Linked DNA regions of Homo sapiens. The protein of the gene in region 1 purifies or fractionates together with the protein of each later gene. This does not show direct contact. Each region holds a gene or a part of one and is shown in the gene's direction. Other genes may lie near its edges. The genes, in order: PPP6R2, AP1G1, AP1S2, AP1B1, ASPM, NFKBIE and SLC27A2.

Region 1 (3,500 bases):
TTTTTTTCTTTTTTTTTTTGAGATGGCGTTTCGCTCTTGTTGCCTGGGCTGGAGTGCAGTGGTGCAATCTCGGCTCACCACAACCTCCGCCTCTTGGGTTCAAGCAATTCTCCTGCTCACCCAGTCGGGTGAGCCACCACACCCAGCCTCTAGGCTGTTTTCTTCTTGTTGTTGTTGTTGTTTAAATAGAGATGAGGTCTCACTACATTGCTCAGGCTGGTCTCAAAAACCTGGCCTCAAGTGATCCTCCTACCTCAGCCTCCTAAAGTGCTGTGGTTACAGGAGTGAGCCACCATGCCTGGCCTACACTTTTTTTTCTTAACTGAAAAATAATCTATGTGTATTATAAAAATAGGACAGGCGCGGTGGCTCATGCCTGTAATCCCAGCACTTGGGGAGGCTGAGGCGGGCCGATCACTTGAGGTCAGGAGTTTTGAGACCAGCCTGGCCAACGTGGCGAAACCCTGTCTCTACTAAAAATTAGCGAAGTGTGGTGTCAGGTGCCTGTAATCCCAGCCACTCAGGAAGCTGAGGCACAAGAATCACTTGAACCCAGGAAGGGGAGCTTGCAGTGAGCCGAGATCACACCACTGTGCTCCAGCCTGGGCGACAGTGAGATTCTGTCTCAACAAACAAGCAAACCAAAGAACAATTCTAATAGAATTGTATCAGTCGTCTGTGACCGAATAGCAAATTACCCTGAAATGTAGTTGCTTATGGCAAGTATTTTTACCTGTAGCAGTATCAGTTTCTGTGGATCAGGCGTCTGAATGTGGCTTAGTGGCTCTTCTGTTGAGTCTCACAAAATACAGTCATCTCAGAGCTCCACTGGGGTAGAGGCCAGCTCCATGGTCACAGATGGCTTGGCAGCATCCAGTTCCTCAGGGCTGTGGGCCGAGGCCGCCCTCAGCATTGCACCACATGGGCGTCTCCACAGGGCAGCACACAACGTGGAGCTGAGCTTTCCCCTCACTCTTAATGTATTTGGCTCTTTAGACCTGGGTGGCTGGGTCCAGCCCACACTAAAAGAGATGGGGGCTATAAAGGCATGAACTCCAGGACGGGATTGCTAGGGGCCCCCTAGGAGCCACCCACCCTGGAAGCACCTAAGGTGACAATGGGGCTCCCTGTGGTGATCCCTGTTGAGAGTTTGGGGTATATCCCAGTAGGCCTTTTCCTAGCATTACACATACCGATCTATACATACAACCACGTGTCCTTGGCAGATTGGAAAACAGTGGTGCTGACTCGTGTCTGAGGCCTTCACCGCTGCCTGGCCAACCACCCTACTTTGTTCTCCATCAGCCCACAGGGCTGATCAGACAGACAGGAGAGGCCACGTTGGCGTCTGTAGGAAACAAGGAGGCCGCCCTGCCTGATGTTGGCGTCTGTAGGAAGCAAGGAGGCCGCCCTGCCTGAGAACTGGAGCCCACCCATGCATGTGGGTGTTGTGGGCTGATGGCCTGGCCTGGGTCCCAAAGGCAGACCTGAGAGCTAATCTGGCTGCTTTCTTTTCTCCCTAAAATACTCCTGTGAGTGTTTGCTTTCCCTCAGTCTTCCCACAGCATGTGAACCAATGCTGCAGGGAGTCAGGGGTTGTTTCTCTCTTAATCACATTTGTCTTACCTACAGAACAGCCCTACATTGTCAGCAGGGGCACGTTCCCATCACGGATTGCGTGTTAATGTTTCCCTAGAAAAGATGAGTCCTCTGTTTTCTTGGTAGCAACTTCCCTATTTTCATTAGCTTACAGGACTCATTCTGAATAATAGCAGCTACTTATTACCACATTTAAAATATAGTATCAGTAACATGGCCACATATTCAGCATATTTCAAAACGTGGATCACAGGTATAGCCCAGTATCTGCATTGCATATCTGACCATTATTAGCCCTGTTTTGAATTCCTGAAGATAGTTCAATGCAGCTTTAAAAAAAAGAAAACTCTAACCAGATCTACATTTTGACGACAGAAAAGGCAGACACAGGCTTCTTTGAAATGAAGCTGTTGTCTGGAATCTTTCTTTGTAGGAAACTGGTTTAGAGAAAGTCCCACATCTTTTTCTTTTTTTTTTTGAGATGGAGTCTCGCTCTGTCACCCAGGCTGGAGTGCAGTGGTGCGATCTTGGCTCACTGCAAGCTCCTTCTCCCAGGTTCAAGCCATTCTCCTGCCCTCAGCCAACCGAGTAGCTGGGACTACAGGCACCCGCCACCACGCCCGGCTAATTTTTTGTATTTTTAGTAGAGATGGGGTTTCACCGTGTTAGCCAGGATGGTCTTGATCTCCTGACCTGATGATCTGCCTGCCTTGGCCTCCCAAAGTGCTAGGATTACAGGCCTGAGCCATTGTGCCTGGCCAAAAGTCCCACATCTTAAAAAAAAAGAAAAAGTATTTGAACATCACAGTGGTATTGAACAACAACGAAAGTCTAGCATCTGCCAGAGAAGCAGCAGGACTTGTGCCCTGTGTGCCCAGCAGGGCTGGTCCTGCTGTTTCTTCTCCACACTGAGGGACTCTGTGTTTCCCTTGTCTTTTCAGAGGCAGTCAAATGCTTCTCAGACTCTCTGTGACATAGTTAGGCTGGGCAGAGACCAGGGCAGTCAGCTGCAAGAGGCTCTGGAGCCAGACCCGCTCCTCACAGCGCTGGAGTCGTGAGTGCTGGTGGGCCGTGGTGCTGGTGGGCCTCCCTTTCTGGGTCATGGGGACGTCTGTGAGCCTTGCTCTGAGCACCAGGATATGTTGCCACCTCCTCTGATTCACATTCGAATGAACCCCAGGTTCAGAGCCCATGTTAACTTGGGGCCTGTTTCCAGAGGGAGGGGTCTCCAGAGGAGTCACCTGGTGGGTCTAGAGAGTGGGCCAGCAGCAGCAGGAGTGTCCTGAGAACCCTGGCGCCTTGCCTTGAGCCTGAGCAGGTTGAGGGTTTTGCTGGGGTCCTCCACGGGGAGGAAGGAGCATCCTTGCATCCTTTGTGTGTGTGTCTGCTCTGCCAGGCAGTGACCTCTGTGTGTGTCCAGCAGGCAGGACTGTGTGGAGCAGCTTCTGAAGAACATGTTTGATGGAGACCGGACGGAGAGCTGCCTCGTCAGTGGGACTCAGGTGTTACTCACCTTGCTGGAAACCAGGCGGGTTGGGTGAGTCTCACGAGGAGAAATCGTGTAGAGCTGAACTTGACGCCTCAGTGATATGGCAGCCCACACGAGCAGTCTGGATTATGTCATTTGTGGTTTTAATTTTTGATTATGCAAGTAACAACATGGATAGATTCCCCTTGTTGAAGGCTTGACTTTATGGCTGTGGCCAAGTCCCCTTAGACCCTCATCATCACTGGTGCTCCCTCTCCAGCCTGAAGCTGCTCGTCACGACCAGTTGGCGATGCATTTGTCGATGTGCGTGGAACAGGTGTGGTTGGCAGGTTTTCCCCAAGGACTGTTCCGACAAGTCCCCACAGCTCCCGTGTGTGTTTGTGTGTGTGTCGCAGGGTTTCCACTCTGATGC
Region 2 (3,500 bases), on another chromosome or scaffold:
GTGCTCTATTTGTAATAGAAACTTCCAAGGCTCTTCCAGCTCCCCTTTCTCGCCATTCTTTAGCTGTAGTCATGAATAGTCTCCATGATTTTCAAAATTGATTCCCTTTAAAGTGCAAAATGGTCACCTTCTAAAAGATATATTCATAGTTATTAATGACCCTATTCCCACCACAAATTTTAAAGTGCTCCTAAGCCCATAACTTGCCTGTTTGAACTATGGTAATGGGTGGAAGAGGAGTTCACCAGTTTCAAAGATCAGACTCTGTATCAAAAGTACCTTTGCCCTTAGGAAGAGTGAGTATTGGAGTCATCTTATCTATTACTCCAAACCTCCCTTTTTATTTCTTGAGCCTGGCTTGGACCTTGGCATTCCGTTTGAATTCCTTCTAACTGGAACATTTGTGTTGTATCTGTAACACTGGCACTGAAATAAAGACCACACGGTTAAAGAAATCTTTCCATATTGTACTTTATGGTGTTGGAGTGAAGCCTTGTAGCTTCCATACCCCTATGTCAGAGGAGGTCTTACGGACACCATAGGGTAGGAATAGCCTTTCCTCAGTCTGAGAAATTGGTCTCTTTTAAAAGACGAATCTCATGAATATTCACATCAAAGACTTGAGCTTTTTAAACTAGTGAGAGTGCCAAGTGCTTTTTAGAAAGGACCCATATGTTATCAAACTTTGAAATTGAGTTGCTGGAATGAAGTAGAGGTGACTCTCTCTGTGGTACACATTGAATGTACTATGTATGTTCAAGTATTCAGGCGCCATGTCTTATATACTGAAGAAAGAAAAAGTGAGGCCCACCTTGCTCTTACAATGTTTGCAATTGTTACTGTATTGAATACAGTATAATGACTACTATGGCTTCAATCTTAAACCTGGAAACAAATATCCCTTTTTTTCCCCTTCATTTCACCAAGCCTTTACTTAAAATCTTCAGTGTCTTGTCAAATCTAGCTCTGTATCAGATGCTGGAATATTCCTAACATTTGACAAACTGGAGTTGAACTAAAGGCTCCACGGGAAAGTTTCTGGTCTTACTAGTGTGTATGAGCAAGATCTGCTAAAACTTACTCCACTGGGTAAATGGTTGACTGAGTCAAGAACAGGATAATATCTCCTGCATAGTTTTCAGTAATGTAAGTGTGGACTAGTGCATATTTCAGACAACTGCTCTGCCTGTGCAATGAAAAATAGCCTTTAAGGGTTTCTTTGCAGACTGATTTCATTGGATGGATACTTAATGCTGTGAAACATGATAGGATTAACATAATGTTGGTGGATTTCTTGAATAGAATTTGTCTTAACATTCCTCTTTGTGTAGAGGCTTTATTTTCTCTCTTATATTTGTAGCTAACCAGCTCAGGTTTTTTTATTTGAACTGGGTTGAATCTCTGAAGAAATCTGTTCAAGACCATGCTATAAGACACTGTCAGCTAATGGAGCTGGGAAGGGTCTACTCTGCTGACAGAGCATTTCCTTGGGTGATCATAGTTTCGAGGTAGAGTTTATGATCATTCATAGCTTTGTCTAGAAGGAGTAAAATATCATGGCCTTAACACAAAGGGTGCTGCGTAGAATATGAATTGATTTTGGAATCAGAACACAAGCACCATACTGAAGGACTAGCAGCCAAATAACTGCCTAGGATACTGATGGTTGTGAAGACTGTTTCAAATGATTGGATCTTTGAAAGCTTCAGCGTGCCTTAGTTTCTAGGATCAGAATTAGTTTTCCTCTCACTTGGCCTTGCAGCTAAATGGAGAAATGTTTCAATTTCTTTGAATACTTGCACATTTCAATAATTCCTTTCCCGAGTATAACCACTCAAGGGGGAGCAAATTTGGATGGATTTACGACTTCACAGGCATTGTGAGGAAAGAGCATTTTCCAAGGCTGTTTTGATAACCCTGGGGTGATAAGCAGTGAGCCCTCACACACTTACTTTGACAATTTCACATGCACTTGTACTTCATTATTTCCCTCTTCAAGAGTCGTTTCTATTCTAGTTTCTGCCCCATCCCGGGGAATCCTAAAGGAGAATTAATTCATCTAAGTAATCTCAAAAAACTGTAGGAAGGGTGCTCTCCCTGAGAAGCTTCTCCCACAGTGCTTTGGTGCTGTTACCTTGAGGTGGTTTGGACAGTCACGGAAGTTTTAGGCTGTGCATAGTGATCATCTGTTAATTTTAAGGTCTTTATCATTTAAAGAAACATTCCTCAGTGTAACATTTGGGAGGGGATTCTTTCCTCTTGCTAGTTTAAAGGTGTGATTTGTACTCCTTGTTTGTCCCATTCATATATGAAAATAGACTTTTAAAACTGTCCAACACTAATGGTTTATATAACATGCTTCCCATTTTTTTTATGTCGTAGAAATTGGAAGTTAGGGAGTACTGCTTTCAAGGTTCAACTTCATTATCTTCTGCATTGGAAAATATTTGGGCCATGAGAACTAGGGGAAAGGAGTTTGAATGTGTCTATTTTTTTCTAGTGAATGTATTTTAACCACAGTGTCCTAAACTGAGAAAACTAGAGAGGAAAAAGTGGGTGTTCATGAACTTTGTAGTTGGGAGAGTGGTTTTACATGTCTGTGTATTCATGACTTTGGGAGTGGGTAGGATCATTGGAGAGAGAATTGCACAGAAAGTCCTGAAGTTTAAAACACTTTTGACCAGCTTTGGCTCGGGAGAGTGGGGCTGCTTGTAGAACTGGAAGTGAATAACTTTTTCAAGCAATATCAGTGAGTGGGTCCCATCGACAGGGTTCCAGGACCTGGAACACTTTAACAGAAGGAAATGCCGAAGCAGCTTGCACAGTTGCTTTACAGACTTCCAAGAGGCTGATTCTGGCTTCAAGATGGAGCCTTGGAGTTGGTTTTTTTTTTTTTTTTTTTCTTCCCTCAAAGAACCTGCGGTTGCGCTTTGTGTGTTTTGTTTTTGTTTTCCATTTGGGGGCCCCATGGGAAAGAGCTTCTGAACTCTTTCCTTTATGAACTCCCACTGTGTTCCTATAAAGGCCCTTTTCTTTCTTAGTGTTGTAAGTTACATTTTCATTATGCCCCATCACATCTTCTTTACTGTAAAAATATTAAAAAGCTGTTTCCAAGTGGGACAGCTAATGAAGCTCTAATTATTGCAGACATATTTTTGAGATGTAAAAAAAAAAATTTAAAGTTAAATGATAAGTCTTAGAGGCGAGTGAGGAATAAAATGGATGTAAACATTTACATGGGATGCATTAGAATTCTGCTGTGTGTACTGTCTTTTGGTTGAAACAAATTATGAACAGTGACTAATAATAAAAAGTCAATACCCAATGATTTAAAATTTGCTTCCTTGCTTCTTACAATTGGATTAGAAGACTTAGATGAATTCTTATTCCAGAGGTTGAGCTAACTTACTGACCTGTTAGTATTCCTTTCACACATAAGTCTCACCAAGAGAGGAATTTGAATCACTTAAAAACTTGTAGCCAGGCGCGGTGGCTCACGC
Region 3 (3,500 bases), on another chromosome or scaffold:
GTAAAATATGCAAAAGCCTTAGCTAACATTTAATGTCTCATGTAGGGCGAGGATTCAGTGAATGGTACTTAATTATTATGTTTCTGTTTTTTTCCTGCCCTAAGCTTTCTGGAAAGAGGTACATTATTATCCTGATAGCTATCTGTTCACCTACACCAAAGAATTCATTAATTTGATTATTCTTTTTCCATTCCGAGTGAAAGTAAACATTACTGGCTGGGGCTTAGACACATTGTTTCTGATGATTTTTAAATTAATGCTTCCAAGTGATTCATGCAGTTTAGGACCTTTGACTAGTGTTTAAGTGCTTTTTATTTGTAAGTAAAGAGGCAGTACTGTGGATAAGGAGCGAGGATGGTACGAGCATTAGCTTGTTTAATAGTAGCATGAGGAAATCTTAAATAAAAGGAATTTTACTTGAAACTGTTAGTAAACTTTGTATAATAAATTATTTAGCATTCTGTTCCTATCAGCTAGTCATATCTGGTTTTTAATCTACCATTTTTATGTCAGTCCCTTTAATGTTTAGTTTTCTTAAATCAGGGAATCTTATGTGTCATTTATCAGTTTCCTCAAATTCAAAGTTCTATTTAATGAGCATGGGTTAGGGAGGATGGAGAGTTGGAATACTCTATTCTCTTTTAAATAGACAAACAAAAACAGTAACGATGGGAAAGAGAGGGAGCACTTTGTTAAAGTTGGCATTGATGCCCTGTTTTGTCTTCCATGACTTATTCCCTTCACAATGATGATAAATGAACACATGTGAATACCTCCTCTCAATAAGACTGCAGTAGCTCCACCATTTTAAATAACTTACTGAGTGTGGAAGTCAGGTAGAGTAGACATGCACAAACTCATGATATATATGCCAAGTGAGTTTGTATGATACAGTGGAAAAAGGCCTGGAGTTAAGGTCAAAAGATCAGGTTTCTTATCCCAGTACTAGCACTTGTAGGCGCTGTACTCTTAAGCCTCATTTTTTTTTTGTCTTTTTTTAATCTGTGATCAAGGATGAAAGATAGTACTTGCTGTTGAAAACATCAAATAAGATGAAATGGTTTTAATAATGAAATTAATGCTGTTGTGTGAATACTAGTTATTTTCATACTAAGGAGCAAGAATTCATTGAGTCTCAAAACAGGTTGTGTTATTCTGTATACAGTATTATTTTACATTAATGCTACGAGCAGTAACTGCCCATTGTGTTTTCTAAAAATCATTTAAGTGATCTTCAGTGAAAATTATAATCTCCACTGAAATGTTCTGTGTTTAGCCTATCTTAGGTTTTTATTTTCTTTCTTTTCAAAAGCCTTAAGTACATGTAAACCATTTTAAAATGCCCTTTTAATCCTCCTCAAAGGACTTGCTATGCCTCAGGGTTGAAGTTTTGCTTCCTTGGGTCAAGCATAACATGATTCCATATGCTAGAATCCTAATTTGAAGGAGAATATAAGTTTCCCAACCTTATTCCCTCTTCTAGGGTAAATAAACTACACTTCAGTTCAACAGTGTAGAACTTGGTAAATTTGAGAACAGGCCTCTGTTTCCCTTAAGTGATAGGAACTTTCTGTTCTCTTTCTCTAACTTCTGTAATAACGTGGAGCTGTTGTTCTTTTCGTATGGTTTATTCTGCAATCCTAGAAACCTTTTTAAAAACAATTCTATTCTGTTAGAAGTCAAGAGCATAGTTACCCTTGGGGGTGGGAGGTTGTGACTGGGAGAGGGTAGCAGAGGAGTTTCAGGGTTCAGTAGTGTTCAGCTTCTTGATGTGGGTGCTGATATATAGTTGAGTTCACTTTGAAAATTTATTGAGCTTGTAGGACTTAAGGTCTTCTCTGTGTATATATTATACATATTCCAATAAAATATCCCAAAATATTGACCTCACCTTGGCATTATCCTCAACAAGTCCTCCTTCAGTTGGAAGGTTTGTTTTCTTCTCTGTACTTACAGTTTGAATTAATCTGCTATATATTTTGTTTTAATTAAGTAAACTTAGGAAAAACCTGGGTCTGCTATGTTTTAAAATGCTTATAGAAAAGAACCTGAAAGGAAGAAGGGCAAAATCACTTATTCTAAGTGGTATGATTATTTTGATTTTTTCTTTATACTTGCCTATGCTTTTCAAAATTTCTGTTATGCGTTTATTACTTTTGTAGTCTATGAGAAAAATCTGTACTGTCGTGAAAGAAGAAATAAACTGTATAAACTTGGGGCTTTTCATAATAGGATATGAAAATATATTTAGAAAACATCATTATAGGATAACAGTTTTTTTCACATTTGTACTTTGTTACAGATATGCTAGTCTGTATTTTTGCTGTGCTATTGAGGATCAGGACAATGAACTAATTACCCTGGAAATAATTCATCGTTATGTGGAATTACTTGACAAGTATTTCGGCAGTGTGAGTAGTATTTTATTTTAGGAAATTGAATGCCATAGTATATTTTGGAACCTTTTCTCTAACAAGTTTATTTTTTGGTTGTCTTGGGGATTCTAACCGCGGGAGAGGGTGGGAATGACTATTTATTAGTAGAAATTATTAAGTTGTCCATATTGGGAACATGCAGAGCCCAGTCTTATTTAGCTTGTAGGAATATGTTTTCAAGTACTTGAGATTTGGAAATTAAGCTTACTTAAACCAGTGATACTTAGTCATTTTTAGAAAGAGTTAAGATTGATTCACTCTAGTTCGATTTTATTCACTACCTGATAGTGAATAAGCATCTTCTGCTTCTGCAAGTTTTAACAATTTTTTCTTTTCTTTTTTCTTTTTTTTTTCCTTTTCAGGTCTGTGAACTAGATATCATCTTTAATTTTGAGAAGGCTTATTTTATTTTGGATGAGTTTCTTTTGGGAGGGGAAGTTCAGGAAACATCCAAGAAAAATGTCCTTAAAGCAATTGAGCAGGCTGATCTACTGCAGGAGGTAAGCTACTTATTCTCTTCACTAGGCACTAGCATGTTTTGCTCTTGCTGGGGAAGTCTCATTCATCATTCTTACAGTTTCAGAAAGTACTCTGAAGCATGCTTGTCATGTAGTGTCCATCCATGTGCAGTTTATTGACTGGAATATGTGTCAGTCACGTCAACTCAGTTATCTATGGATGGATGGTTCAGTTTGGAGATGGTCTATCGGTCAGGCCTCTTCCCAATGGCCCTTTTTGGACCCTAAAACACTGGAGTCTAAACCTTTAGAGGACAGACTATTTGAAGAAGGGAAAAGATTGGCTGAAAGTAGCAGTAAGTTGAGAACTCTCCATCTATTGCTTCAAATTGTTTAAGATAACCCCCTTTTTCATTAGTGTAGATAATCAGGAGTTGACTATGAGATTATGACATTTTAATTCCAAATTGGCTCATATTTTTACCTCATGTCCATTAAATGCAAAAGTAGCCAAGCAAATGATAGTGTTTTCTAATTATACTTTTTGTAGAAACTTCCAGGTTTTTTTTGTTAGCAAAACTAAACAGTATTTGCATTTCTCTTTGCT
Region 4 (3,500 bases), about 21 Mb from region 1:
GCAACAACAACAAAAAAGATAGTACATGTAGGAAAGGTATTTTTTTTTTGTTTCTTTTTTTAAGCATCAGAGGTATCACGCTGAAGGGAAGTTATCTTTGAAATGAGATCATCTAAGCTGAGATTTGAAGGATAAATTGGAGCAGTTAGGAGAGGATAATCCAAGCAGAAGGATCAGCAAGGGTAGAGATAGTGAAGAGTTGGCTGTTAGAGGAACAAAGAAGGCATGTGGGCCTGGAGGCAAGGACCTGGTACTTATATCCTGTGCCAGAGCCCCCCACCTTCTGCAGCTCTGTCACTCTGAGCTGATACCTATGGGAGCAGGTGAGAGTGACTTGGCCTCACTGAACGTTTCTCCCACTGGAGATGTTGCCACCTGATCTTCTACCCTTGCCATTTCTTCTCTCTCTCATAATTTATTCACTTAACTTCCATTTATTGGCTGTAAATGTGCTAGGGGTCTGGCATGTTCAATTTCAGTATAGTTAGAATAGCTTGACAATCAGAGCAGATGTATCTCTGATCCTGGATAACCCCGTGAATGGAACATGGAGAAGCTGCTCTAGCAGAGGTTGGTTTACAAAACATGAAATTTGCCCAAGAAGAGAGTTGAGCACTGGTCATTCAGCTACTTATTGAACACCTGTTTGCCAGGTACCAGCCTAGGAGTCAGGAATATGATAGTGAACAAAATGGACAAAATCCTTACCCCCATTTACATTAGGGAATTTATAGGGGGAGAAAGAATAGACAACGTAAGTATATTTTATAGTGTGTAGGTAATAGGTAATAAGTACTTTGAAGGGAAAAAGGGCAAAGAGGGTTAGGAAGTGGTGGGGATTATGGGGGAGGGGTATACAATTTTAAATAAAATGGTCAAAGAAGGCCTCAATGAGAAGATGACATTTGAGCCAAGACCTAAAGAGGTGAGGGACTGAGCCATGAGGCTGTCTGGAGAAAGAGCCTTCCTAGCAAAGTGAATAGCACGGGCAAAGGCCCTGGGGTGGATGCATGTTGTGTTCGAGGATCAGTAAAGAGGCCTGTGCGGCTGGAGCTGAGGGAATGATGGGGAGAAGAGTTCAAAGGGTAATGGCCAGCAGGGTGCATGCGTGAGAGAGGAGGGGCATGCATCTCTTATAGGACCTGTGGGCTATGAGGCCATGGTAGGGACTTTGGCTTTTACTATGAGTAAGACAGAGAACCGTTGGAAGACGTTGAGCAGAGGGGTGCTACTGTCTGATTTGGACTGTAAGAGGATCATCCTGGCTGTTGCTGAGATGGGGTGTCAGCAAAGCAGTGTGGGAGCAGCTTTGTTAGCACTCTAAATGGAAGGTGATGCTGGCTTGGAGCTGGGGTTAGTGATGGAGCTAGTGAGAAGCTGCTCATGGATTCTAGATTCATTTTGAAGGTCGGAATCCAATAGGATTTGCCGATAGATTTAAAGGAGAGTATGTTGTTAAGAGTGACTCAGGTTTTTAGCCTGAGGCCCTCTTAAAGATGGTGCTGGCAGGAACTAGATGATGTAGACTGCAGGGTGAGCCAGTTGGGGAAAGGAAGGAAGCAGGAGGTCAGTTTTTATCCCATTGTTTGAGCTGCCTGCTAGTCATCTCCACAGTAATGTGGAGATGTCAGTTACACAGTTTGGACATGTGTGCCCGGGGGTTCTGGGGAGAGGTTGGGCTATGTGGATGGTATGTAAAGCTGTGATACCGGATGATCCACCAAAGAGGCAAAATAGCATAGATGGGGAAGAGAAGAGGTACCAGGCCTGAGCCCTGGGGCACACAGTGTTGAAGGAGAAGGAGAGGAACAAGCAAAGGAGACTGAGAAGGCGCAGACAGTGGCGTAGGAGGGCAGGCAGAGAGCATGGCATCCTAGCATTTGAGGGAAGACAGGTTTTCAGGAAGGAGGGAGTGATCAGTAGTGTCAAATGCTTATCAGCATGAGACTTGTCATTTGACATGACCATTGTGTCTTCTCCTGGCAGGACCCAACACACCTGGCATCCAGAACCATTTCTGAATCTCATTCTTCCTTCCCTAGCCTCGTCTGCTCCTTTCCCTTCCAGGTCCTTTCCTTCAGCCAGGCAGCGGGGCTCACAGACTTCTTGTTTTGGCCTTAGGTAAATCACTCATCTCTCAGTGTCTCTAATTCCTTGTTTTTTAACTGAATTACCCTGAGAATTAAATGAGAAGGGTTGTAAATCACTTAGCAAGAAGCCGTTCCCCAGCTAGTGTTGATTTAATTGTTGTCAGTTCCCTCCGTTGTCACATTGGCAATTTCGTGGTGCATCTCTTTGCCACCTCCACTCTTGCCTCTCTAAATCTGACCTGTCTTTTTGCGTCAGCCAAGCCCCTCTTCATCTAAGAGAACTTCCCTTGCTGCTCCACCTATCTCAGAACCCTCCTCCTCTGGAGGCATGATCACTCTGCCGTTCCCCTGCAGTCCTTTACCTGGCCTCTAAATCTGTAAGAGCTCAGTGAGAAAAGACTGTCCTTTGTTTACTGTGTGCATGCTTCCGTGTGGGGCACAGTTCCAGGCATGGAGCGGATGGTGCTCTACACTGTTAATTTGACAGATCTTCAGAAAGTGTTCCCATTACATAGATGGGAAAACCGAGATCACAAAGAGCGTTGTTCTGTAGTCTCTGGCCTCTTTCTCCTCATCTCGATTAATTTAAGTATTGTTCAGAAGAAGCCTTACTTACTTTATTTTCAAGTCCAGAGGAACTTTTTCTTTTTTTGAGATGGAGTCTTGCTCTGTCACCCAGGCCAGAGTGCAGTGGTGCGATTTCAGGTTCAAGCAATTCTCCTGCCTGAGACTCCTGAGTAGTTGGGACTATAGGTGCGAGCCACCATGTCCAGCTAATTTTTGTATTTTTAGTAGAGATAGGTTTCGCCATGTTGGCCAAGCTGGTCTCGAACTCCTCACCTCAAGTGATCTGCCCACCTCGGTCTCCTAAAGTGCTGGGATTACAGGCATGAGCCACTGCGCCCATCACTTTTTTTTCTTCACAGCAGATCTTTCCGCACATTACGGCTTATAGATCAGTTCAGAACTGGTACCTGATTCTAGAATGGAGTTCTAGAGACTCAAAGCCAATATAAGAACGTTTGCATGTGACATTTGTCTGCCTTTAGTTCCTTTTCATTCTGAAGTCTTTAATTGCTAGTGGGCCTCAGGAAACTGACTTTTTTTTTTTTTTTTTTTTGTGGGACGGAGTCTTGCTCTGTTGCCCAGGCTGGAGTGCAGTGACACGATCTCAGCTCACTGCAAGCTCCGCCTCCTGAGTTCACACCATTCTCCTGCCTCAGCCTCCCGAGTAGCTGGGACTACAGGCACCCGCCACCAGGCCCAGCTAATTTTTTGTATTTTTAGTAGAGATGGGGTTTCACCGTGTTAGCCAGGATGGTCTCGATTTCCTGACCTCATGATCCGCCCGCCTCGGCCTCCCAAAGTGCTGGGATTACAGGCGTGAGCCACTGCGCCCGGCCTTTTTTT
Region 5 (3,500 bases), on another chromosome or scaffold:
TGCATATTCTCAGCACCTCGTAGAGAGTCTGGAATATACAGACACAATAAGTTTTGGTTGAATCTAGACTTTAGCCTCTGTAAACACAAAATAAATTGTGGTTTATGGTCTGTGACTTCTGGATGTTGGTTTGATAAACCACTGAATTCATAGCATTAGTGCGTGGAGTACAGTGGTTATTAAGTGTTTGCTAAATGAATATGATTGTGAAGAACCCAAACTTTAACTTTCAAATCACTGACCTATTTAGGGAATTTGTATTTTAATGCTCTTAGTTTTGTTTTCTAATTTATTTTAGATTTATCAATATTCAGAACTCCAATTTCTAAAACAAACAAAAGGACAAAACCCATTATCGCTGTGGCACAGTCCAGTTTGACCTTCATAAAACCATTAAAAACAGGCAAGTATTTATTATACTTAAACTCTCTGAAAACATGACATCGAATGAAGCATTAATTGCATTTCACATGGAAATGAATTGATTTTTGTTGTTGAATAACAGCCTGGAAGAATTGTTAAAGTGTGTATTAAAATGACAGGATATTGTGTCAACTTTCTGTTTGATAAAAGAAATAAAGACCAAATGTTCAATAGATCAGTAGGGTCACTATAGTAATTATTGTATATTTCAAAATAGCTAGAAGAGAATAACTGATGTTTCTAGCATAAAGAAAAGACAGATATTTGGACTGCGGGCACCCACGACCATGCCCGGCTAATTTTTTTGTATTTTTAGTGGAGACGGGGTTTCACCGTGTTGGCCGGGGTGGTCGGGCAATCTCCTGACCTCGTGATCCCTCCCCTCGCCTCCCAGGGTGCTGGGATTTCAGGCGTGAGCCACCGCGCCCGGCCAAAAACATGGGCTGTTATCCTTTGCTGTGGTAGGGAGTATGGATGAAGTGAAAGTTGGTAAAAGGATGGTCAGAGGCCGTCACTAGCCTTGGGGAGTTTTCCAAGTGGAAAATGAAAATCACTGTGACTTCGTTAAGCTCCAAGATATGCTTCTTTGTACCAATGTGGAAAATCTAAAAGAAAAACCTACACTCAGCACTATGAATGCTGTAGGTACCAAAAACTGCAGAAAATGGGCTTTACAGATCTGGGCCCAGACAACCAGCCAGTTAGTTTTCAAGAAATCTTTGAAGCCAAAAGACAAGAGTGCTATGATCAATGTCAGAGAGAAGAAGAGTTGAAACAGATTTATGCAGCGAGTCAAGGAGAAAGAAGCTGAAAAAGAGCTGCAGGACAAGTTCAAGCATCTTAAAATGATTCAACAGGAGGAGATAAGGAAGCTCGAAGAAGAGAAAAAACAACTGGAAGGAGAAATAATAGATTTTTTATAAAATGAAGGCTGCTTCTGAGGCACTGCAGACTCAGCTGAGCACCAATACAAAGAAAGACAAACATCGTAAGAAATAATCGTTTCTCTTAATTTTCTGTTTGAGAGCCCTATCATTCACATCCCAGCTTCCTGTGATTGTATTTGTAGCATTTAAATCTGATTGAAGTTCTTATTTTAAAAATTGGCTTGCTTATTGTATATTTTCCCTAACTAAAGTGTGAACTCCTAGTGGGGCGTGGTGGCTCATGCCTGTGATCCCAGCACTTTGGGAGGCTGAGGCAGGTGGACCATCTGAGGTCAGGAGTTCAAGACCAGCCTGACCAGGATGATGAGGCCCTGTCTCTGCTGGGAATACAAGAGTTGGCTGGGCTTGGTGGCCGGTACCTGTGGTCCCAGCTGCTTGGGAGGCTGGGAGAGTCACTTGGGCCCCAGAGGTGGAGGTTGCAGCGAGCCAGGTTCTTGCCATTGCACTCCAGCCTGGGCGACAAGGGCGGGACTCCATCTCAAGAAATAAAAAGGTGTGAACTCCCTGAAGACAGGTCCTGTGTCCATCTTTTCAGATTCTGTATCCTGGCACTTAGGATGTAGACTAACACGAAGATGACATTCAATCAATATTTGCCAAAATGAAAAAATAAACATGTAACATCATGTTAAAGGAGCAGTTTAGGTGGAGAAATTTCTTTACCATAGTCCTGCTTGTGGATCCAGTAGTGACTTTTACATTTTATATCTAAATAGAAGCTTGAGGCTTTGTTGGGGACTCATAGGCATAAAATATTATGTTATACAAATCTAATTAATAGGCCTATTTTCCTTTTTAAATTCTAATAATTTCTTGATAGTTTTTATTATGATAAAAGATTGGATTTTGATTAGAACTCTCATGCTTTTATGTCAGACTTAAAACTGATATTAGAATAAAGAATTCAAAAGCTAGAGAAAATCAGAGTACAATGAGAAGCCATGAGTTGCATTTGAATGATAATATTATGTCTTACAGATTTGGGGTATACGCTAAAGTTATCAAAGTTGTAAAAATAAGGCTGGGTGCAGTGGCTTACACCTGTGGTCCCAGCACTTTGGGAGGCCAAAGTGGGCGGATCACTTGAGGTCAGGAGTTTGTGACCTGCCCGGCTGGCATGGTGAAACCCCATCCCTACTGATAATGCAGAAGTTGGCTGGGCATGATGGTGTGCACCTGTAGTCCCTGCTACTCGAAAGGCTGAGGCGGGAGAGTCGCTTATACCCAGGAGGCAGAGGTGCAGTGAACAGAGATTGTGCCACTGCACTCCAGCATGAGTGACAGAGCGCTATGAGTCACTACACCTGGTATGAGCCACCATGCCCGGCCTACGATGACTTTTATACATGTTGTTAAATCATCTTACAGATTTTATAATTTGGGGGAAGAAAAATTTTACTAAATGGTCTTTTAATGGAAACTACAAGAACCAGAATCTTTGCTTTGTTCACTTAAGTGTCCATTCCTAGGCCTAGAACAATGTCTGACACATAGCGGCAATTATTCCTTGAATAAATGGACCCAGCAATAGTACATTAGCTATGCTATATGCATAAATTAAAAATGTAGATTATTGACTTTCAAAAAATAATTAATGTGACTTCTTACTGCTTCTGAACATGTTTGTGAGTTATATTGCTGAGGGACCTTTATCTTCTCATTCTTTCATCTTAATCCAATGTTATTAAAATTGAAATCACCAATATTATTCCATATCTAAAAATAATATCTACCTTATAAAAATTATCACTCTGCTGCATTTGAGAATAGACTTTTTAGGTAATAATAGTATGATCCATAGGGTTTTTTTAGGGCACAGAAGGATTCATGCTAACAGAACATTTTATTTTCTATTTTCCCAGAGCTATAAAACATGATATTATATGATAACTATAAGGCATATTTTTACTCTGTTCATATTTTTTCTAAAAAAAATTAGTGTTTGTTTCCCATATAACTTTTAATTTTATAAGTAAATATTTGTCTCTTTCAGCTCCAGTTTTATGTGAAATAGAGTTTCCAGATTTATGTAGCATGGAGAGTTTTAATAAGTCAGAGTTACTGATTTTTGCCAGTCATTTTCTCAGTTGTTAACTTCTTTTATCTTTAGTTGATTTTTTTTGTAGTGAC
Region 6 (2,443 bases), on another chromosome or scaffold:
CGAGAGAATGTTATGCCCAGATACCTGTTTGTGCCCTGGCAGCCATTCCCAGCAGCCATACCAGTCCAAAGGCTGCTCACTTAGGAAACCATATGCCAGACACTGAGCTAGAAACTGAGGAGACAGACCCAAGTAAGACATGGCCTCTGTCCTGAGGTGCTTGCATCCTGGGCTGGGGGACTTGTATCAACAGCTAAATACACAGCCTGGTGACAAGAGTTGTGATAGAGACACATACCAGCTGCTATAGGGTCCAGTGTCTGTGTGCAGCAGCCAGGGAAGGCTTACAGAGGAGATGCCATCTGAATGGAGCCTAACAGAGAGTTTTGCCAGGGAGAGACTGCCCGGTGCCTCTATCTTTCCTCCTGCAGCCTAACCCCTGGGGGTAACAGAGGTCTCCTCACAGGGTGAGGGGCTAGACTCTCCTCCTACATGTCCTTTCTCCAGGGCCTAAGGTGACTTACAAGAAAAGCAGAGAGCTACTTTCTTCACCTTGCTTCCAGAATTGGGATCCCAAGAGCTTGGTGGGGGAGGGGTGTGACAGGGGAAGGGCTCGGTAGTATTTCCTTGGAAGAACAGGTTATGGCCTTTATAAGCTGCTTTCAAAGAAGATGCTGGCAGCTGGTGATTCTTGAGCCCAAGCATGTTCCCAGAGGTGGGAGCATGCTGCAGTGGCCCCATGACCCTCTATTTGTGCCTCCAGACAGCACTCCATCTGGCTGTACATCTGGACCAACCGGGCGCAGTTCGGGCACTGGTGCTGAAGGGGGCCAGCCGGGCACTACAGGACCGGCATGGTGACACAGCCCTTCATGTGGCCTGCCAGCGCCAGCACTTGGCCTGTGCCCGCTGCCTGCTGGAAGGGCGGCCAGAGCCAGGCAGAGGAACATCTCACTCTCTGGACCTCCAGCTGCAAAACTGGCAAGGTGTGGACAGTCTTTAAGACTGCCCTTAGGGCCTGTGGGATGAGGAGGGCATAGGAGATAGGGACCTCACTCTTGGGGAAGGGAGGGTCCCAGCTTGTCCATTGGTGCCCCTCCCACTGTAAGCACATAGATATTCAGTACATCTTTGCCAAATGAATGAATGGATGATTTGATTTCGAATTTAACCAGTACCTACTGCCTGCTGAGAAGAAAACTAAATCTTGCCCTTAAGATACTTAGTTTAATAGAGATTAGATGACCTGATTCATTCATTCAACAGAAATGTACTGAGGGTTTTCTATGTGCCAGACGTTATCCTAGGAGCTACACTTGCATCTGTGTGCAAAATAGAGAAAGATTGAGATGAGCAATAAATGTAAGAAGTGAACTATGTAATATGTTAAAAGGAAGTAAGTGCTGTAGTAAAAAGCAGAGCAGAGTGAGAGGAAGGAATGTGGGGAGTAGGAGAGTTGATATGATTGTTAAATAGGGTGGTCCGGGAAGGCCTCATGGAGCCAGTGACATCTGAATAGCGCCCTGAGGAAGGTGAAGAATGTAAATTTGAATCGAAATCTCTATTACTAAGCAAGGGTCGGGAGTGTCCAGACTAGAAAGGAGAGCAAAAAGGCCAGGGGAGCACAGAAGGAAGCGGCCCCTGAGAAAGGGCTGGGGGCATGAGGATCTTAGGTGGCTTTTCAGAAAAGGTGGCTTTCAGACTGGGCTTGAAGGCAGGTTGTGTGTGTGTGTGTGTGTGTGTGTGTGTGTCTGTATGTGTGTGTGTGTGTGTGTGTGTGTGTGTTGTAGTTTGTGTATAGGAGGAGGGTGTTCTTTGGGGGTGTCACTCAGCAGCCTGACCCCTGAAGCATGAAAGTTTCAATAACATGACTCTGAAAAGGTGGAAACTTTGAGTTCCTTTCCCCTTAGACTTTTGAGGGGGTTTTGGGGTTTGCATTTTAACAGTCTTGTGATTAGAGACATTGAGTGGGCTGTGAGTCCCTTGGGGCTGAGTGGTAGGGAGGTCCCAGAAGAGAGGGAGTTGGTGGATGCAGATCAGCAGCCCTCACCCTCACTCTCACCCCATCCCAGGTCTGGCTTGTCTCCACATTGCCACCCTTCAGAAGAACCAACCACTCATGGAATTGCTGCTTCGGAATGGAGCTGACATTGATGTGCAGGTGAGACAGCCAGCAAAGCACTGCCCGGCCCAGGGCCTGCCCCCACCTGACACATCCCCAAGTCCCCTGCCCAGCAGTCAGAAGTGGTGGCATTCACTTCCTTATCCAGAGCCCAGGCCCAGCACACTGCCTCTGAGGGCCTTGGCTGACATCCTTATTCCTCCCCAGGAGGGCACCAGTGGTAAGACAGCGCTGCACCTGGCTGTGGAAACCCAAGAGCGGGGCCTGGTACAGTTCCTGCTCCAGGCTGGTGCCCAGGTAGATGCCCGCATGCTGAACGGGTGCACACCCCTGCACCTGGCAGCTGGCCGGGGTCTCATGGGCATCTCATCCACTCTGTGC
Region 7 (3,500 bases), on another chromosome or scaffold:
GCATGTTTTCACAGTCAAATAGAAAACCCCTTTTATTGGGAGGCCGAGGCAGGCAGATCACGAGGTCAGGAGATCAAGACCATGCTGGCTAACATGGTGAAACCCCATCTCTACTAAAAGTACAAAAAATTAGCCAGGTGTGGTAGCGGGCACCTGTAGTCCCAGCTACTCAGGAGGCTGAAGCAGGAGAATGGCATGCATGAACCAGGGAGGCGGAGCTTGCAGTGAGCCGAGATTGCGCCACTGCACTCCAGCCTGGGCGACAGAGCGAGACTCTGTCTTAAAAAAAAAAAAAAAGAAAGAAAAAAAAAGAAAACCCCTTTTAGGGAGAAAAAAGAGAATGAGCATCCTCTGATTTAATCTCGTAAGTCAGAATTTATATTTAATTGGAAGACAATTAGAAGGGTGTTTATTTTACTTTTTTCATTTTCTCTGAATCAAATATTTGCTAGGCCAAGCACAGTGGCTCACATCTACAATCTCAGAACTTTGGGAGGCCAAGGCAGGAGGATTACTTGAGCCCAGGAGTTTGAGACCAGGCTGGGCAACATAGCGAGACCACATCTTTACAAAAACATTAAAAAATTAGCTGGCATAGTGGTACACCTTGTAGTCCTAGCTACTTGGGAGACTGAGGTGGGAGGATCACTTGAGCCCAGGAGTCTGAGGCTACAGTGACGTGCCACTACACCCCATGCTGGGTGACAGAGCAAGGCACTGTCTGTAGAAAAAAAATAGTGCTAAGTTACTCTTGTAAACATTAATTAAAAGAATTTGTTTAAACAGTTGGAGAATAAATGTTCCTGCTCCTCAAAGGAAGTCATTAGCACAAAATTATATAATAGTTACCAGATATTCTCATTTATTCATTAATACAAAATCTTAATTTAGGAAAGTTCTGAAAGTACTTCAAGGCAACAAAGATGAGCATTTCTTTTTAAAAATTTCAGAGGCCAGGCATGATGGCTCATATCTATAATCTCAACACTTTGGGGCCAAGATGGGAGGCTCACTTGAAGCCAAGAGTTCAACATCAGTCTGGGCAATAAAGCAAGACCTTGTCTCTACAAAAAATATAAATAAACAGCCAGGCATGGTGGTGCACACCTGTGGTCCCAGATACCTGGGGGGCTGAGACAGGAGGATCACTTGACCTGAGGCTGTGGTGAGCCTTGAACACCACTACACTCCAGCCTGGCAACAGAGTGAAAGCCTATCTCAAAAATAATAATAATAATAATAATAATACATAAAACAAAACAAAAAACTGGGCCATTGTCAAAGAAAATGAATTTTGAATTGTGTTTACAATAATGGTAGGTTGCTAGCCATATTTGTCTGCCTTGTAACAAGTTGCTGCTATTTGGGCACTATCTGGTGAAGGTACCACCAAGTATTGAAGAATCTGAGTCAACAGAGATCTGTCTTCCTCTTCACGAAGTCTGTTTACCCACTCAGATCTTAAACTCTTAGTCCCCTTCCCAGTGACTTCATGCCCTCCCCAATTGAACTGTTCTTCCATGGGAAACAACATAAGCATACACTTACAGAAGAAAATCTTACAAAAAACGTATATAAATTATGGTTAAGAAAGTGCAAGCGCATTTAGTCTAATGTACTAAAACTACACTGAGATACGGTTTTTCACCTTTCAGACTGGCAAAGGCCCCAACATTTAAGAGCACACATTGACAAGGCTAGGAGGAAACAGGCACACTCATGTATTGCTGATAGGAGAATGAATGGGGACAGCCCTTATAACTGGCAATGTGGAAGTTATCTATCAAAATTACAAAGACTCTTACTCTTTTTTTGAGACAGAAACTCATTCTGTTGCCCAGGCTGGAGTACAGTGGCAGGATCAGGGCTCACTGTAGCCTCAACCTCCTGGGCTCAGGCGATCATCCCACCCAAGTAGCTAGGACTACAGGTGCATACCGCCACACCCAGCTAATTTGTTTTACTTTTTGTAGAGGAGGGGTCTCACTATGTTGCCCAGACTGGTGCTGAACTCCTGGGCTCAAGCGATCCTCCTGCCTCAGCCTCCCAAATTGCTGGGATTACAGGACTGGCCAACTTTTATCTTTTGACACAACAATCTCACTTCAGTGAATTTATCCAAAAGATATGGTGTCATTCATAGTGTGAATTGCCACGTGGACGAGCTTCTTCACTGCAGCATCATTTATAACAGCAAATAGTATAAATAAATTATAATACACTTATAAAAGGACTTGAAGGAGCTGAGAAAGAGAATAAATAAATGAATAAATAAGGGAAATCTTTATGTACAAACATGAACAAATCTCCAGTAAACATTGTTAAGCAGCAGAGACAAAAAACATGCAAAAGAGTGTGCATATTTCTTTTTTTTTTTTGAGATGGAGTCTTGCTCTGTCACCCAGGCTGGAGTGCAGTGGCGCTATCTCGGCTCACTGCAACCTTTGCCTCCCAGGTTCATGCCATTCTCCTACCTCAGCCTCCTGAGTAGCTAGGACTATAGGCACCCACCACCACGCCCGGCTAATTTTTTGTATTTTTAGTAGAGACGGGGTTTCACCATGTTAGCCAGGATGGTCTTGATCTCCTGACCTTGTGATCCGCCCGCCTCAGCCTCCCAAAGTGTTAGGATTACAGGCGTGAGCCACCGCGCCTGGCCAAGTGTGCATATTTTTTAATGGAAAAGGCAAGAACATATAAGCAAATGTTCATATTTGCTTTGTTTGTATAAAATAACTCTAGTACGTAAGAAATCTCTCTGACTCTCAGCCTTCACATCTGTGGATTGGAGAATATAATTCTGTTTATGTCATATATAAACTTGTTATGGATTTTTAAAATGTCTTGCAAAGTGGTAGCCACAGGGCAGAAATTCAATGGACAGTCATTCCTCTGTTTCTGTTTCTCTTCAGATTACTACTGTCATAACCATCTAACTCAGGAGTTAGCAATCTATGGCTTGTGGGCCAAATACAGCCTCCCACCTGTTTTTGTAAATAAAGTTTTATTGGAACACAGCCACACTCCATTTATGTATGTGTATGGCTGCTTTTGACTACAATAGCAGAGTTCAGTTGTTGCAACAGAGATTGTATGACCCACAATCCCAAAACATTTACTCCCTGGTCCTTTATAGAAAACATTTGTCAACTCCTGGACTAACTGGTCATGGCCCTTCCCAGTGCAATTCTCAAAATACAGGGTGATGAATCTTCCTAAGCCAGATCTCTCTCCTACACTGTAAATGCCCAATCTTGGTTAACTCATGCCTTCTCTTGTATATTTACAAAGGTCTTCCAAAAGCAGCCATGATCACTCATCAGCGCATATGGTATGGAACTGGCCTCACTTTTGTAAGCGGATTGAAGGCAGATGATGTCATCTATATCACTCTGCCCTTTTACCACAGTGCTGCACTACTGATTGGCATTCACGGATGTATTGTGGCTGGTAAGCTTTTTCTACAAAATGTTGGAGGCGAGTGCACATTTACATTTTCC

Evidence for each region.
Region 2: the proteins of PPP6R2 (region 1) and AP1G1 purify together in Homo sapiens (affinity purification with mass spectrometry; 2 studies listed by BioGRID and IntAct, with this or other methods). This does not show direct contact.
Region 3: the proteins of PPP6R2 (region 1) and AP1S2 purify together in Homo sapiens (affinity purification with mass spectrometry; 2 studies listed by BioGRID and IntAct, with this or other methods). This does not show direct contact.
Region 4: the proteins of PPP6R2 (region 1) and AP1B1 purify together in Homo sapiens (affinity purification with mass spectrometry; 2 studies listed by BioGRID and IntAct, with this or other methods). This does not show direct contact.
Region 5: the proteins of PPP6R2 (region 1) and ASPM purify together in Homo sapiens (affinity purification with mass spectrometry; 2 studies listed by BioGRID and IntAct, with this or other methods). This does not show direct contact.
Region 6: the proteins of PPP6R2 (region 1) and NFKBIE purify together in Homo sapiens (co-immunoprecipitation; 2 studies listed by IntAct, with this or other methods). This does not show direct contact.
Region 7: the proteins of PPP6R2 (region 1) and SLC27A2 purify together in Homo sapiens (affinity purification with mass spectrometry; 2 studies listed by BioGRID and IntAct, with this or other methods). This does not show direct contact.

What each region holds. Positions count from the first base shown.
Region 1 is NC_000022.11:50,416,327-50,419,826, forward strand, and holds part of PPP6R2 (serine/threonine-protein phosphatase 6 regulatory subunit 2), read left to right. Parts: intron 1-2,540; coding exon 2,541-2,653; exon of another isoform or gene 2,654-2,663; intron 2,664-3,019; coding exon of another isoform or gene 3,020-3,022; coding exon 3,023-3,136; intron 3,137-3,500. UniProt on the Homo sapiens protein: Regulatory subunit of protein phosphatase 6 (PP6). May function as a scaffolding PP6 subunit. Involved in the PP6-mediated dephosphorylation of NFKBIE opposing its degradation in response to TNF-alpha.
Region 2 is NC_000016.10:71,728,835-71,732,334, reverse strand, and holds the end of AP1G1 (AP-1 complex subunit gamma-1), read left to right. Parts: 3' UTR 1-3,335; downstream 3,336-3,500. UniProt on the Homo sapiens protein: Subunit of clathrin-associated adaptor protein complex 1 that plays a role in protein sorting in the late-Golgi/trans-Golgi network (TGN) and/or endosomes.
Region 3 is NC_000023.11:15,844,814-15,848,313, reverse strand, and holds part of AP1S2 (AP-1 complex subunit sigma-2), read left to right. Parts: intron 1-2,302; coding exon 2,303-2,411; intron 2,412-2,797; coding exon 2,798-2,935; intron 2,936-3,500. UniProt on the Homo sapiens protein: Subunit of clathrin-associated adaptor protein complex 1 that plays a role in protein sorting in the late-Golgi/trans-Golgi network (TGN) and/or endosomes.
Region 4 is NC_000022.11:29,378,571-29,382,070, reverse strand, and holds part of AP1B1 (AP-1 complex subunit beta-1), read left to right. Parts: intron 1-3,500. UniProt on the Homo sapiens protein: Subunit of clathrin-associated adaptor protein complex 1 that plays a role in protein sorting in the late-Golgi/trans-Golgi network (TGN) and/or endosomes.
Region 5 is NC_000001.11:197,136,670-197,140,169, reverse strand, and holds part of ASPM (abnormal spindle-like microcephaly-associated protein), read left to right. Parts: intron 1-298; coding exon 299-403; intron 404-862; exon of another isoform or gene 863-1,622; intron 1,623-3,500. UniProt on the Homo sapiens protein: Involved in mitotic spindle regulation and coordination of mitotic processes.
Region 6 is NC_000006.12:44,260,109-44,262,551, reverse strand, and holds part of NFKBIE (NF-kappa-B inhibitor epsilon), read left to right. Parts: intron 1-703; coding exon 704-926; intron 927-2,012; coding exon 2,013-2,101; intron 2,102-2,269; coding exon 2,270-2,443. UniProt on the Homo sapiens protein: Sequesters NF-kappa-B transcription factor complexes in the cytoplasm, thereby inhibiting their activity. Sequestered complexes include NFKB1-RELA (p50-p65) and NFKB1-REL (p50-c-Rel) complexes.
Region 7 is NC_000015.10:50,199,196-50,202,695, forward strand, and holds part of SLC27A2 (long-chain fatty acid transport protein 2), read left to right. Parts: intron 1-3,291; coding exon 3,292-3,450; intron 3,451-3,500. UniProt on the Homo sapiens protein: Mediates the import of long-chain fatty acids (LCFA) into the cell by facilitating their transport across cell membranes, playing an important role in hepatic fatty acid uptake.